2 separate regions of the Homo sapiens genome follow, and region 2 is reported to be linked to region 1. The links are microRNA targets in miRTarBase. Many come from high-throughput screens and were not tested one by one. Region 1 holds a microRNA gene; the other region holds the end of a gene's coding sequence.
What was found. Region 1 holds the annotated microRNA hsa-miR-1468-3p (AGCAAAAUAAGCAAAUGGAAAA, at 3,180-3,201, opposite strand). A microRNA usually pairs through its seed, bases 2 to 8, with sites in the 3' UTR of a target mRNA and lowers its output. Matches are read on the target gene's strand: a 7mer-m8 pairs with bases 2 to 8, a 7mer-A1 pairs with bases 2 to 7 and ends in A, and an 8mer does both.

Region 2: miRTarBase lists CRYBG3 as a target of hsa-miR-1468-3p. Seed matches in the 3' UTR shown: 7mer-A1 at 6,891-6,897.

What each region holds. Positions count from the first base shown.
Region 1 is chrX:63,782,833-63,791,027 of GRCh38, forward strand. It overlaps MIR1468 (microRNA 1468), which reads right to left and starts at 3,255; the gene lies at 3,170-3,255. It overlaps ARHGEF9 (Cdc42 guanine nucleotide exchange factor 9), which reads right to left and starts at 2,382. Exons shown (of 10, transcript NM_001353921.2): 1 at 2,284-2,382. The coding sequence starts at 2,313.
Region 2 is chr3:97,942,454-97,950,648 of GRCh38, reverse strand. CRYBG3 (crystallin beta-gamma domain containing 3) reads right to left here. Exons shown (of 22, transcript NM_153605.4): 22 at 5,665-7,423. The coding sequence ends at 7,335. RIOX2 (ribosomal oxygenase 2) reads left to right here. Exons shown (of 10, transcript NM_153182.4): 7 at 634-805; 8 at 3,200-3,288; 9 at 4,762-4,851; 10 at 5,307-8,195. The coding sequence ends at 5,465. Among named protein-coding and RNA genes, the nearest start is that of RIOX2, 26 kb to the left of the region's middle.

The DNA.
Region 1 (8,195 bases):
GGTGCTTATTAACATCCGCATTTAATAGGTAAGAAATCTGAGGCCCAAAGGATTTCTGTTAGTGGCAAGGCCAAAACTTAGAGGTTCCCTGCCTCTCAGGCAAGAATAGAGTTTACTACTCCCATCTCTTGAATTCTGGTAAACAGCTAAATAAATGCTTTCATCATATAATATTCATTGTCTCAGTCCTCTAAGAATATTATGAGATTTTTCCCCATCAACCAATCCTTAATTACACAGTCTCCACAAGATGTCTGCCACCCTTTTCTCTCTCATACACTGTTGGCAAAACTTCAAATTTCTTCATTAATTTAACCTGTTGTCAATGAGTGGCTCTGGGCCCCTATACTTCAATATATTTGGGAGAGGAAGTAAGTCTCACCCTGACCCAGTTCCCAGTTGCCAGAAATGCCAGGACTGGCATGGATTTTTTTCGGGTAATTTTTTTTTTTTTTTTTTGAGATGGAGTTTCGCTCTTGTTGCTCAGGCTGGACTGCAACGGCACAATCTCGGCTCACCGCAACCTCCCCCTCCTGGGTTCGAGTGATTCTCCTGCCTCAGCCTCAGGCATGTGCCACTACGTCCAGCTAATTTTGTCTTTTTAGTAGAGACGGGGTTTCTCCACGTTGGTCAGGCTGTTCTTGAGCTCCCGACCTCAGATGATCCACCCGCCTCGGCCTCCCAAAGTGCTGGGATTACAGGCGTGGGCGGCCGCGCCCGGCTTTCAGGTAAATTTAATGGCACTAGATCATCCTGAAGAAAGTCCTTTCCCAAGATCATGACTATGTTCCTTTCTTCCCCTCTCAGCACCATTTGAGCAAATGATTGGTGGAGCAGTGGGGAAGGACTGTGGCAGTCAGGAGACTCAAGTGCTAGACTCAGCTTTGCCTCCAAGGAGTTTGTGGTCCTGGGCAAGTCTCTCCCACTCTCTGGATCCCAGCTTTCCTGGCTGGACAGCAAGGACTCTAAGGTCTTTACCTGCTCTAATCTTTTCTGGTTCTACAAACATTTGATGCAGCTTTAATGGGACCTCAGGGAAGTAGGGAGGTCTGGGAAGAAGGGTCTTTTGAAGCCCCAGCACATAGGCATATGAACCGGATGCCCTTAAGAACCACTGAAACAGAGATCTAACAAAACTCTGAGGAAGGGAAGAGGACAGCCCCTCTGAATATAGTCCTAGCCCACACCAGATTCCCTCTTCCCCTCCACAATGAAAGCAAAAATGGAGTTAAATATCAGTTTTTGCCCAACCACTTCAGGCTACTTTCCTTCATCTGCGGGTTATGGGTGGCAGCGTAGAAGTGTGGGCTATTGCCATCAGTGCCTGCTGACCCAACCTAACTGCCTTCTAAGGCCCTTTTGCTTATGCCTCCCAGCTGAGGACAAAGTCATGGGGGCCTCCCACTCCCCAGAGGCCCTAACCAGGCTTAAGCTGCTCCTGGCTAAGTCAGAGAGGCATCAAAATGCAGCCACCACTTCCTCTCTGCAAAAGGAAGTCATTCCAAGGTCTCCAGGTGGAGAAGGGAACACCATGGCATAAAATGAACTGTTGGAGGATTATACTAAACACACACACAAGCACACACTCCTTGGGAGGGAGAGAAGAGCTCTGTTAACTGACTGTGGCCCAAGCCCATTTCCAGAATGTGGGTTTCTGCAGCTGTCTCTCCTTGACAAAGCCCCAAGTGTGGACAGGGTGACCCCAGCCCGGACAAGGAAGGGCTTTAGGGCTCCCTCAGGCAGCTTCCTGAGAGAGAGAGAGTGGCTCTCTGGCCCTCATGCTCTGGGGCTGACCAGGGAAAGGAGTTGCAGAAAATCTAGTTGGGGGCAGGGGGGAGTCATGCAGCTCTCCCATAAGGCCCCCTCCACAATTCCAGGCTTTGTGACCGTCCCCTCCCCCCACAACCCCGTGCCAGCTTGTCAGCCTCCTGCGAGCTTCACTGCTTCCAGAGAAGCCCTCTGCCATCCCCCTTCCCTCTCTGGCCTCCCAAGTGACCCCTGGGATGTTCCTGGGCACATAATCTGGCCCCCACCCCTATTCCACCTTAATCTCAGAGGGAGATAGAAAAGTGGAGGGGGATGGTAGGGGGGTTTCCTGGGCAGGCAGGCTAGCAGGGACTCCTAAAATGGCCACAGCAAGCTCACTGGTGTCTCAAGGACGGCGGCTAGGGCGGTGGGCAGAGGCCAGGGTGCTCACTGCCTTGTGGCTCGTTGGAGGAACTGGAGGTGGGGCTGGGGGACTGAGAGGCTCAAGCAAGGGAAGCCAAGGTTACATGCACTCACCATTCCCGATCCGCCCCTTATCCACTGCATGGTGCTTGCGAAGTCCGGCTTCTCTGAGGCCCCGTAGCTGGCGCGAGTTGTCGCGGGCTGACTAGAAGGGCTGGGCTGAAGCAAGCGAGAGCCCCAGCGCCCCCTCCGCCGCCCCTCCTCCACAGCCCTACAACCCAATCCCCTCCGCCCCGGACCTCGCCTTCAGTCAGTTTGTTCCATGCCAACCGGCAGGCTCTGTCTCTCCGCCCTGCTGCTCCTAGAGGTCTTGGCAGGGAGAGGTGCGAGTGTGGGGGGGTCCTAATGGGCTGCTTTTGTCCCCCACCAAGGCTTGAGAACTGTGGGGGTGGGGTGCAGGGAGAGGATGGGGGCGAATAGCCTCCGCCCGCCCAGGAGAAGGCAGCTGCTACCTCTGCCTGCCTCCCGCTGCGCTGGAGTTAGATGCTGTTTATTGTGGGGCTTCCCAATTGTGTCGAGTCAGCGGAAAGTCCTTTCCAAAGTTACCAGAGGTGTTGTGCCAATCTCCAGAATAATAAGATCCTGCCCCAGTGGAGCCAAGCCAGCACTCTCATGCCTCCCTCCCCCACCCTCCCTCTGCATACTCCCCTAGGGTCTTCTCTCTTTGTGTACTATCTGAGAGCTTTCATCTGCATTACTTTCACTTCTCAGAACAACCCTGTAGAGGCAGCCATTAGTATCTCCAAGTTATAGATAAATAAATGGAGGTTTGGAAGAGGGAAGGGGCATAAGGTCACATTAAAGAAAAAAAAAAGATAAATCCTCGACTTTACCCTCTGCGGCTTTCCAAGCCTCTTTCGGCTATCTCTCCCTTTCTATCTCACACACACCACTCCAGGCTTCTCCTTCATGCCCTTAGGAACATGAAAGGTAGCTTGTTGATGGACGAATTTTCCATTTGCTTATTTTGCTGAGAATGAGTTGAATGCACATCAGCGAAACAGGCAAACGGAGAAACCACCCACCTCTTTATGATTCCCCCAACTCTGGGGAACACAACACAGGCTGGTACCTTTGCTTAGGCTAAAAATTGACTTTGTCAGTCACACTAACATCTGTTATTATCCCTTATAATCCTCACAGTAACTCTATGAGATGGACACAACAAGGATTCTTAATTGCCCACCATTACAGACTTGAACACTGAAGCCCAGAGATTGAAAGACTTCTGCTTAAAGTAGCACAGCCAAACAAGACAAGAATCCAAGGCTCCTGACTAGAAGAGCAGGTCAGGCAAAGACAGAATTGCAAAAACAGAGGTTGCAACCAAAGTAAAAGGAGTTACAGTATGATATTAGAAAGAAGTTCCTGGAGATAATTGACATGAAGACATCACTGGCCTGTTACACGTACTTTATTTGTCCTCTTCTTTTTAGCACAACTTCTGCACTTCATCCAACCTGTTGTTTTGTCCATGCAGAGCTGGGCAAAGATAGAAGCAGTACCTTAATGAGCACCCCATCATGGGAGGTGTACAAGCAGAAGCTGAATGACCCTTTGGCAAGGGATTCCTGAATCAAATGGGAGGTTGCCCTGGATGACCTTTCAACTTCCCTCCCAAGTCTGGTAACCCAGGCATCAGTGATTCCACAATGTTCTCTCACTTTCCCATCTCTGGGCCTTCTTTCATGCTCAGTATCTTGGATGCACCTCCCCTGCCAACCAGCCCATTCAAACTGTCATGACTGTTCAAGATCTGGCACCAGGCACACCACCTTTAGAAAGCTTTCCAGGAATACCTCCAGGCCCTGATTTTGTCATCTTTCATTTGATTCCTATAGCACTACGATTTCACTGTCTCGATTAAAAATGATCTTTTTATTTCCTGGATGTTACGGGCTGAATTGTTTTCCCCCAAAATTTATATGTTGAAGTCCTTCCAGTACCTCAGAATCTGATGACTCGGAGAAGACAGTCATCTAAACAGCAAGCCAAGGAGAGAGGCCTCAGAAGACCCAACCCCACTGATACCTTGTTCTCAGACTTCTGGCCTCCAGGATTATAAGAAACTCAATTTCTGTTGTTTAAGCCACAGAGTCTGTGGTATTTTGTTATGGCACAGCCCTAGCGAACTAACACAATGGTCATATGAACATTTTACTGTCCCCTTTCACTTAAATGGCATTATGTGTTTTTGAAGCAGTGGCAATGAATTACTAATTTCTGCATCTTCTACAACAGTGACTGGCACATAGTAAATACCCAATAAAAACTTGGAATTTTTTGATGGATGCATTCATTCAACATTATCATTTAGCCCCTGTGTGCCAGGCATTGTGACAGATGCTCAGGATACAAGACAAAGTTCCTCATGGACCTTACAATCTACTTACAGAAGAGAGATAGACAATAAATAAGTAAACAAACAAAAATATTTAGAGATTGTAATATGTGCTCTGAAGGATATAAACCAATTTATGTGATGTGAGTAGCCCTGGAATTGTGGAAAGTATCTGTGCCGGTCATGGTCCAATCAGGAAAATAAAAACCACCCTAGGTCTTTTAAACTGCGAGCATTTAATGCATGACACTTACAGAGCTAACAAGCCAGACAGAGGATGAGGATGCAGCAACCTAGCATTTAACAAACACAGAAAGCTGCTACCACTCGTAGGGATGGACGGATAACAGATGAAGCCATGCAGAAGCTAAAATCATGGGTTGGACAGCCTATTGGAAGCAGGTGCCATGAATGGAAGAGTTGTTCAAGAGGAGCTGGAGCCATGGAGGAATACAGCTACCACCAGAAAACACCTCTCTGATACAGGTGGTGGGAGAAATACCCTGGGTTCTCCCTTCCTCCTAGCCACCAATCTCCTGTACATGTCTCCCATTGGACAAAAGAAGTGAGAAAGCAAGGAAATCTAACAAATGTAATTTTCAGGAGAAGAGTGGAGAATGGATCTGGATGCAAACAGGCCAGTGTTAATATAAAGCCTAGGGACTCCTGCAAAAAACAGGTGCCTAGAGACTCCTGCAAAAAACGTGTTGATCCCAGAGGTGTAAATAGATGCTGTTGAATCCAGTCATTATGTCTTGAGCACCTATTTGCCTAGAACCATATGAGTAGTTAGAGGAGACATAATGTAGTTGGTAGGGCATAATCTCTGAAGTCAGAACAACTTGGATTGTATTCAGTTATTGGCTTTGCCACTTACTTGGGCAGATTATTCAATGTTCTATGCCCTGACAGTTTCTTTATCTGTGAATAGGGCTGACAAGATAGTTACAAAGATTTGATAAATTTGTCCAAGGAAAGTACTTAGCACAGGGCCTGGAAGCCAGTAAGAATTCAGGACAGGACAATAGAAATCTGGAAAAGGGGTTTCCATAATCTCTGTGTTCACTCTCTTGAAGTCCTGTGATCTCCCAGAAGCCTCTTTGGTACCTAGCCAGGCACCAGCTCTCCACTCTAGTAGAGGGCCATGAGCAAAATGAAGAGAAAGACAGTCATGTCCCAGCTTATCTGTGACTCAGGTTCTCCAGTCATACAATGAACACACTAATTGTGTACCTAAGAGTGTTAAAGAATCACTGATCCATAGATATCAGAGTTGGCCTTAATAATTGTAAAGATTATTTCCTCCAACAGTCTCATTTTACTGATGAGAAGATATAGCCCCAGGGAATGGAAGGAGCTCCCAAAGTCACAAAGTAAGTTAGTGGCTGAGCTGGGATAAAAACTCAAACCCTTGATTCTCCAGTGAGTGGAGTGCAGTAGTGAAAACGGGTAAATACTGAAAGGACACAACTACTATAATTCCAAATATTGGAGGCCCAAGACTAACGTGTATATTATAAACTCTTATCTTTACAAAGCAATATTTCGTACATACATTACTACCTATTTTTATTTATTCATAAAATCAATAAATATGTGTGCCTACAATGTGCCAGGTATAGTATGTTAAGCACTGATGCCATAGCAGTGAACAAGATGGACAGAGTTCATGCCCTCATTTCTATTCAATAAACAACTAAATCTGGTAAGCAAATGTGCTAATACAGATGGTGATAAGTGCTATAAAAGAAAGAAAGTGAAGGGATAGAGTAACTCTGGGGGAGGAAAGGGAGTTTAGATAAGGAAGGCTTCTCCAAGGAGAAGGTATTCAAATTAAGGCCTAAAGGCTTAAGGCGAGCCAGCCATGTAAGAGGTAGGGGGAAAGTATTCCAGGCACAGAAAACAGAAAGTACAGAAGCCCAAAGGATTGAACTGGCATGTAATGTTGCAGGAATTAGAAGCGCAATGAGGCTGAAACCTAGAAAGAAAGAGGGAGAATGATAGGAGACAAATTTGACAGAAGCCAGGTCATATAAAGCCTTGAAGACCATAGTAAAACAATCTGGATTTATTCTATGAACTACAGGGAGAGAGGCGTGGGAACTGAGGGATTTTTAAGCAGGAGAATTAACTGATCCGATTTACATTTTTAAAAGATTTACATTGTCTTTTAAAAAACTGTTGTTTTTACAGGGGAAAGATGATGGTGACTTGGACTGGAAGAACAGTAAAGATGATGGACAGAGGTAAAAAGATTTGAGATATATTTTAGAGATAGAAATAACAGAGCTTGATGATGGATTGGATGTGGAGTGTGAGGGAAAAAAATGAAGAAATTCCAGAAAACTTTAGGTTTTTGGTTTGCAATACTGGGTAGATGGTGGCACTTTGGCTAATGTGGGGAGACTGGCATAAGCTCGGGTTTGAAGAGGGAAAAAACTCAAGACTTCCATTTGAATGTATTGAGAGTGAGCTGCCCAATAGTTATATTATTAGAGGGGATGTCAGGAAGACAACTAGATATGAAAGCCTGGAGCTCAGGAGAGAAGATCTAGCTGGACATACACATTTTGGAGTCTTCCTCATATTTATGATATTTAAAGTCCCAAGACAGGATGTAATCATCTAGGAGGGAACATAGATTTTAAAAAGGGCCCTGGACAAATCCTGAGGTTCTTAACAATTAGATAAAAGTTCCACAGAGAAGGAGAGATTTATCTATAGAGACTGAGAAGCAGTGGCCAATAAGGTAAAAATAAAACGAGGATAAATCATATTCAGGTGAATGTTTCAAGACTAGGTGTGTGAAATGTTGAAAAGTTAAATGATATGCCCATTGTACTGGCAACAAGGTTGGTGATTTTGACAAAAGTAGCTTCACTGGCATGAGAGTAAGAAAGATCATATTGGAGGGGTAGAGGAGTGAATGAAGGGAGTAAAGAGTGAGCAAAAGTAAACAAGTAGAGACAATGAGTGTAGACAACACTTTGAGAAGTTCTCCTGTGAAGGGAATAAGACAAGACAATATTTGGAAGGGGATGTGAGGTCAAGGAAGTCCTTTTTATTCTTTTAACATGCAAATAAGGACATATTGATATAATGATGGGAATGAGAGGAAAGGCTTATCACATAAGACCTTGCTAGTTGAAGCATGGTCGACAAACCAACAACAACATCATCACCTGGGTGTTTGTTAGAAATGTAGAACCTCAAGCCCCATCCCACATCTACTTAATCATAATCTACATTTCAACTAGATCCTCAGATGATCTGCATGTACATTTAAGTTTGAGAAGCACTGGTTTAAGAGAGGGGATACCTGCAGGAGCAAAGTCCTTCAGAAAGTGAGAGGGGATGGATTCCAGAGCAAAAAAGATTTGCCTTGATAGGAGCAAAATCACTTCCTGAACTCTAGCAGACAAGAAGAGAAAATGGGTAAATGTGCAGGTGATGGTGAGCCTATAGATTTGGTGAATAAAAGGGAAGGAAATACCCCTACAACGTTTTTAAAATTTTTCTCCATGAAGCTGAGAGAGGATTATGGAGGGAGGTGTCAGTGGAGGTTACAGAAAGGAGGAGCAAGTGTGAAATAGTTCTTTCAGCACAGTGGCTCTCAATCTTGGCT
Region 2 (8,195 bases), not on the chromosome of region 1:
ACTTGCAGAATGAGTGGAGTGCCATGTGTTATGTGGTGATCCAAAGAACTGTGATGTTGTACAGACAGCTCTGTATTTCACAGTGGCAGTAGCAGGCAGTGTGAAAATGTTGGTTGAGTAAATGAATAGTACGGCCAGGAGAACTGTAGATTTAGCACACATCAGATTACTAGTTAAGAGAAACTCACTGTACTGGAGATCCTGGCCTCGGTGTATTCGTTGGCCTCCTGTTCTTTTATTACATTTTGAAACAGGAGTGTTATTTGATTAGTTTTGAGATGAGTGGATTAGAGCTGAGTTGAGCAAAGGTTGCTTTCTCTGAAGCATTCATCTTAGGACAGTGACCTGCTTTCCAAAAGGCAGAGCTCAGACTGTACCATATTTCCAAGGATCTCTATTTCTAGGCAAAATTCTGAAAATTTTTTGCAAACAATAGGCAGCTTAGAATTAACAGTGTTTATAAGGAAATGATGAGATATCATTCTTAGGGGCTCAGGTTGTCCCTTCCCCTTTGGAATGACATGGATTAATGTCTATACCCGGTGGCTGGCAGTTTTGCAGTCTACTGTGGAGACTGAGCTGGGCAGTAAGTTCTGCTGGCATCTGGGCCAGGACTCACTTCTGTGTTCCTAGCAGGTGGAATCCACAACTGTTGCTACAAGACGATTAAGTGGCTTCCTGAGGACACTTGCAGACCGGCTGGAGGGCACCAAAGAACTGCTTTCCTCAGACATGAAGAAGGATTTTATTATGCACAGACTCCCCCCTTACTCTGCGGGAGATGGGGCAGAGCTGTCAACACCAGGTGGAGCTTGCTGTTTTCTTCTGGGTGGTCAGAGGCTAATGCAGGATGTTTACGGTTTTTCTGGGTAGGCTCCTTTTTGAACAGATGGAAAGTATGAAGTGCTTTCGTGTTAATGTGGACCACATCCATCCTTAGTGAATATGGGCAGACGAGATGTGCTGCACTCAACCTTTAGCAACCTGTATCTTAGAAGTCATTTGGAAAGAACTTGTATCCCACCCTGATGGGAAATAAGAGCCCTGTCCTTTTGGGTGAGAAATATGTATATTTATAGGTACTCTGGTATTCATAGTCTTCAGGAAGTTTTCAAAATTTGAACATTGAAATAATCTTGTTGGAATTAAGTCAGGGTTGGGTTGTCTTTATTTGTGTTGCTTAAAGGAATACCTGAGGCTGGGTAATTTATATAGAAAAGAAGTTTATTTGGCTCATGGTCTGCAGGCTGTACAAGAAGCATGGTGCTGGTATCTGCATTTGGAGAAAACCTCAGGCTACTCACAGTGGAAGGGGAAAGGGAGCTGGCATTTGCAGAACACATGGTGAGAGAGGAAGCAAGAGCGAGGAGAAGTGCCAGGCTCTTTTTAACACCAGCTGTCATGGGAACTAATGGAACAAGAAGTCACTCACCGCCCCCAACCCCAGGGAATTATCTATTCATGAGGGATCTGCTCCCCACAATGTGACCCAAACACCTCCCCTTAGGCTGCACCTCCACACTGGGGATCAAATTTGAACATGAGATTTGGATGGGACAAACATCCAAATCATAGCATGGGTAAAATTGTTACCATCAGCCAGTGAGATTCAAGAAATGTCCAAGATTATCATCAACCTTCTCCAAGGCACAGGTGCCTAATTTATGACAGATTTAGGCTGCAAATGATATAACATACTTTTGGATGGATGATGTCATTGATGACTTCCAGATGGATGATGTCAGTATCCTATAGCAAAGACCACCAAGAACATACTCCTGAATTCAGACGAAATTGGATTTATTGACTTGTTGCAGTGGGAAGACCACACACCATTGAGAACTGCAGGGCATCTCAGTAAAACGGTGTTAGAAAAGACTTATAGGACTCAGGTGTATGTTAGGTGATTTTGGAGAGGGTTCAAGGAAGCAGGGCTTTGCTCTGGATTGGATGCTGTCAGGAAATGGAAGGGATTCTATGATTAAGTCTCCTAAATGTTATCTGGTAGGCAGGAGGAATGTATGAGGCTGAAGTTATCAATGGTAAAGCGGAAGTGGTCACTCATTAGCCAGAGTAGGGGGATGTTCGGTCAGTGTTGTGGTTTGGAATATGTTCTTGCCTTGCCTGAGTCCAGACATGAGTATGTACGGAGTGGTGGTGTTTTGTTTTGACCTATCATGGTGACAGTGATCTCTGATGTTAGCATTCTGTGGAATTGCCTGTGTTCAACAGGAGAACACAAAGACCTAGCTGTGAGTGCCAGGCCAGCTTTTTGGCTGCTGTTCTTTCTCAGGGTTGAGTGAAAAGAGTATTTTTTACTAACTTTAATAAAACTCTTAATTATGACCAAGAGAGAACCACTGAGATAGATAATCTATAAGGTCCCTTCCAACACTGATTCTATATACATTTTTATCATAGTCTTTGGAGGAAGCTTAGAATTTGTTTTTGATTGTATCTATTCAAAATAGCAAATGTTTTACAAGCACATGGTTTAATCTTTAGCAGAACAGTTTGCTTATGCACCAGCTTATGGCCCAGACTACTTCAGTGTTTTCCTTATCTTAGGCATTATACTCAATAAAGTGATGATCCCTCACGACTCCTTCCCCACGCAGATGACCCTGTAAGGCTAGTCTGTTTTTATTGGGTATTGTTCCACTAAGTTAAATCCAATTTGGAAAAAAAAAATTTTCTGTGGACTTTATTAGATGGCTTTTATAGGATACTATTCTTGACTTACATAGACTGAATAATTGACCAGGGTCACACACCTAATAATTGGTGGAGTAGTGCAATTTTGAACTCAGGTAGTACTTCCAGAGTCCATATGTTGAGCGAGAAGCTTGTAGAGGACAGAACCTGGAGGAGTGAGTGTTCTGTGCAGAAAGCACCACAGCCTTATGTGCTATGATAGCCACTGTACTTCGATGGTATTATTTTTGTCTATTTATTGTACTTATAAACTTACATTATTTATCTATGTCTGTCTTCACTGTAAGAATGAGCTGCATAATGATGTGAACTATAATATCAGTACAATGTTGGGGTAAGCAAATTCTTCAGTTGGAGTGTATGCCATGTTTGGATTCACCTGTAAATTGTTAGTAAATGTGTTTCCTATGTGTATGTATAAGCAAGTTTGAATCTGCCTGTTTCCTTTTTTGAAGGTCGGCTTTCTCTCTTTGGGGTTTTCTAGGTGGAAAGTTACCGAGGCTGGACAGTGTAGTGAGACTGCAGTTTAAAGACCACATTGTCCTCACAGTACTGCCGGATCAAGATCAATCTGTGAGTATCCAAGAGGAGGAGATTTCCTGTCTTCTCAGGGTGTTTTTCATCAGAGGCCTCAGGTTATTAGATTAACCACTGGTCTCTGCCCTTCTTTAGGAATCCACCTGCATTCAGTTTAATGCCATTTCTTCAGGTCAGATGATGACCAAATCTCACAGTTCCAATTCCATATTTTCTTGCCCTCATCCTCACAGAACCTTCCTTCATCCCCTTTATGTGGTGATTAATGTCTGGTCTTTGCTTCTCATCCTACTTCGGGCCTTACTGTTCTTGCTTGGACAGCCACAGACCTCATTCCTGAGTTTCTCAGCCCCAGTCCTCCACACTGTGCAGATCTATATTTCTATGTGGTTTTGTGGATATTGTTGCATCTCCTTAAACTCTATCCTGTAGATTATGGAGAACAAAGTATATATTCTGTAATTTTGCTTCCTAGCCCAGTGATTCCCCAAACTGGCTAACTGATCATGGAGTCAATTGGAAAGCTTTTTAAAATTATAAATTCCTGGGTTTCATCTGGTCTTGGAGCCTTTGGATTTATGTTTTGATAGAGCTCCCTGTACAGTCCTAAAGACCTTGGAACGATCTCATACCATATGGCTCCACCTCATTCCTCCTAATCAGCTCTCTAAGGAGCTATCCCATGAATGATCAAGGGGGATGAGAGGGGCACTCAACATGTCTCGATAACCAGATTGTTCCAGCCGTCAGGGCCAGAGTTGGAATATATATATGAATATACATGAATAGATATATATATATATATATATACATCCTCAAAAGTACACATTCCTACATCCCTGTCTAAAAAAAAAATAGTGATTCTGATAACCAGTCAGTTTGAGACATTGTACGCTAGGCTAAGATTTTTTTGCCCTTATCTAAGAGGTGACAAAGAATGACTAAAGGCTCTGGAAGAGACAATAAACTGCACTGTGTAACATGGGGAGTGAAGGGAGATAGGGACCATTTGGGAGGGTAGTGTAATTGAAATGGAGTTTTTTATCGATCACACAGCTGGTATTTCTCAGGAGTTAATGACTTCATGATTATAAATTGTCAGTTTATACCTAGAAATGTCAGATTTTTTTATTCAAAAAAGATAGTGCAGGTATGATTAAAAAAACTGAGGATTTCATTGATAAGTTGATACATAAATCACTGCTTTTTCATTAAATCCTGAAGATGCTCTTCCAGGTAGCACTCCAGCTGTTTTAACAACTTAGAATGCCCATTAATTGCCACATACAAATAGTAACCTGTGGTGACTAATGAAGTATAGACATTGTGTGGATGCACACACCCGTCACTTTTTGCCAAAAGGATTCTTTACAGTATTCAATAAATTTCACTTGAGCACCAAGGCTTTTGAAATTTTTTTTGGTGTTGACCTATTGGAAAACCTTCCTAGTACTGACACCTTCAGTGTTGTGTTGTTGATGGCCTAATGCATTTATTTTTTCCCCAAAGGATGAAGCTCAAGAAAAGATGGTGTACATCTATCATTCCTTAAAGAATAGTAGAGAGACACACATGATGGGAAATGAGGAGGAAACAGAGGTTTGTTTCAACTGAAAACAAATGCCTATCCTGTGACTTGGGTGGTGGTTGGGAAGAATTGATTATTTTTGATTTACAGGTAATATGCTTTTTATGGCTGCACTGTGGACTTAACCATTTTGCACTACTCACAGAGCTCCTGCATGGGGATGATTAAGTCAGACATTTCTGTGATACATGCACACCAGTTTTAAGACATACTAGCTGGGACCTGTAGCCTTATAGGAATGGTATAATGTAAAACATTTCAAATTACTAATATCACTTACTACATAAATTAGGATGCCTTTTATATAGAAGTTGGCATCTTTTATGTTATCTAATTGTAGTGTGTCTAAAATACTCATGAGGGGTATCAAAAATAATGATGTATGGAGAATAAATTTACAGGAAAATGCTACTTCAATGACATAAGTAGTATACATATATTTTGACAAATAAATTTATCCTTTCAGTTTCATGGACTTCGCTTCCCTTTGTCACATTTGGATGCACTGAAGCAAATTTGGAATAGTCCAGCTATTTCTGTCAAGGACCTGAAACTTACTACAGATGAGGAAAAGGAAAGCCTGGTATTATCCCTCTGGACAGAATGTTTAATTCAAGTAGTCTAGTGCCTTTGCAGAATCAAATGCCTACTATTTTATATGCATATATTAAAAGAAAAGCAAAGACCTGAGCCGAGGAGAGGATGAATTCAAGTTTCCTTACCTGCGTATCTACTAACAAACATGAGACCTCCCTGTTACAGGTGGTCAGTTGGCCAAATGTACTAACGGGCACATGAAAGAAAGAACAGCAAATTACCAAGTGTCTCAGAAAATGACAAAACCATATTTTGACAAGTTTATTTAATCCAGTGTGGTAGAAAAGGCACAATTCCAATGTATCATTTAGAATTGAATGTCATTAACCTGGCTTTGTTCTTTGGAAGAAACAACTTCTTTAAAGAGCTTCTTTGGCTCTAGAAAAATTTCAAACAATTAAAATAAGAAAAAATTTTAAACTGGTTTTTTATAATGAAAATATACATACCTTTGTGTATAGACAAGCCCATGCCCATTAAAATAAAGTTATCCTGTAACATAAATTTTATTAAATAATACTTCCCCACAGATGAGAGGCACGCAACACCTATGGACAAAAGGGAGTTACAGAGGCTGCTTAAAAGATGGAGAAAAGCCTGAGATTGAAGGAGGAAAAAAACCCAGTATTTAAAGTCTATAAAAAATACTCAAAATAGTGGGTCTTCGAGTTTAAAATAGTCATTGTTATTTTACATTCTAAAGTGCATGTAGGTTGATATTTTTTAAAATATCATTGGAGAATTTAATCTTTCTTTATAAAAATAGAGCATTTTTCTGCTTTCTGGCAAAAGTTGGGGATAAAAGGAAAAAAAGTTGTCAAAATGTAATTTTCAGTCCAATTCACCAGGAAAACATGCTTGTGAATTGTGCAGTAAAAGGTGGTAATGACTACTGGAAGCTAAGTCAAAGGTGATTTCCTACCTGATTTTACTTACTTAAATAAAAGTTACTTACAATGGGAGTGAAAAACTGAGGTTTCTGTTATTTAGTAGAGAAATCAACTCCACGTTTACTTAAAGAGATGGTAAGGTCAAGGTTCAAATGCTACTGTGTTTTAATTTGGATATTTGAAATTTCTCTTGAGGCAAAAAAAAAAAAAAATTGATGCCTCTCCTTAAATCTAGGATGAAGTGTCAACATGGAGACAGGTAACCACTGTTATAGAGTCTTGTCACCTAAAGGGATGTCTTGGTTAACACGTAACAGTGCAAGTTTGGCCATAGGTTATTTATTTGTACTTTTTTAGTTTGAAGGACTGAGGAAACAATAGCTACAGAAAATACTTCTTGTGCCTTATTCCTAACAAAGCTGAGGTCCCTGCCTGGGGTTAGTTACAAGTATAAATACTTAACGAGGTGCGTTCATTATAAAAGCCTCAGTATAGAAACCTTAAAGTTTATCTAGGAAAGTTTAGTATATTTTCAGGTGTTGCTAAAAAATTACTCATCTGTTTGCAAAAGTATGACTTGACCTATAGAAATCTGTTTCTTTATGCTTTGTACTCATACAAGCATCTAGGTAGGATATTAATAAATAATACAGGATAATAGCATCACCAGTGTCCAATAACGGGCCATCAGGAACAGGATTCACGTTTGGTGGATATGAGAGAAAATAAACACTTCAGGAAACTTGCTCACCACAGCTGGAGATCAGGAATAGAACCTTTCCAAGATATCATAATATTTTCTTTATAGGAACACTGAGTAATGGCAAGAATATTTTGAGCTTTTCCATGGTTAAGAGCGATAGTCTCAGAGGCTGGAGAAAATGTTCATTCTGCTCAGTGATCCAGGAGTGTGAGGACAGTAGCTTCCTTTCCACGTCCACAAGACAATGACAGATGTGTTTCCTTCTTTGCTCTTTCTAGGGATCTTTCTAGGGATGTTGATTCTCTCACAATATTTCAATGTCCCATTTCTGTGTTTCTTCTCCCTCCAGGGGCTGATTTACAATTACATGAGTCTTGTCACAATAATTTCCTCCTAAAATAGAAATTCCAAAAGAAAAGATTATTTGTTCAGGCAGGTGCTTAGCAATTTCACAATTTTCACAAGCTTCTGTTCAGCTCACCATTTCGGTGGATGAATGTGTCATTTACAAAGAAGTCTGAAATGGGAAGCTGAGTTTGAACAGGCTTAGCCATTATTCACCTCAAATTGGACCTTATTATGACTCAAATTGAAATACTAAAAGGTATAATACATGATTGTATAAGTGGCGTGCCTTAATGTGATTCTTTAGAACAAAGTGCTCTTGAGAGAACTCTGGCTGAATGTCAGGTACTGTGTTTTTGTTTCTACACCAACAAAACTGTGACTAACCCAATTAAAGCAACAGCCATGAATAATATTGGCCCTGACCTTGCTGAATTCAAAAACAAGGTTAATTGATACCTACCATAAATTCTACCTGAGGGTTTTTAAGGACCATGGCAATTCCTGGCAAAAAGCTAGAGATGTTTCTAAGAAACAGATGACATTCATTTCATGGTTTATGGTGCTTGAAATTTAGAACTGTTCTGAGTTCACGTAGCAAATGAAAGTTTTACAACTGTACTAATGAACAAAAACCCTAAGCTTTGTTGTTTGGCTTTTTCTGCTAATTGTTTTGTTTGTAAAACTGCCTATCTTAATTTTCTTCAAGCATAATTTTAAATGACTTAACATTTCTCTTATACATAAGGATGTCCTTTACCCAAAATGAGGAGATTTGGAACTGAAACTAATATCCAGGGACACAACATTGGGTATCATC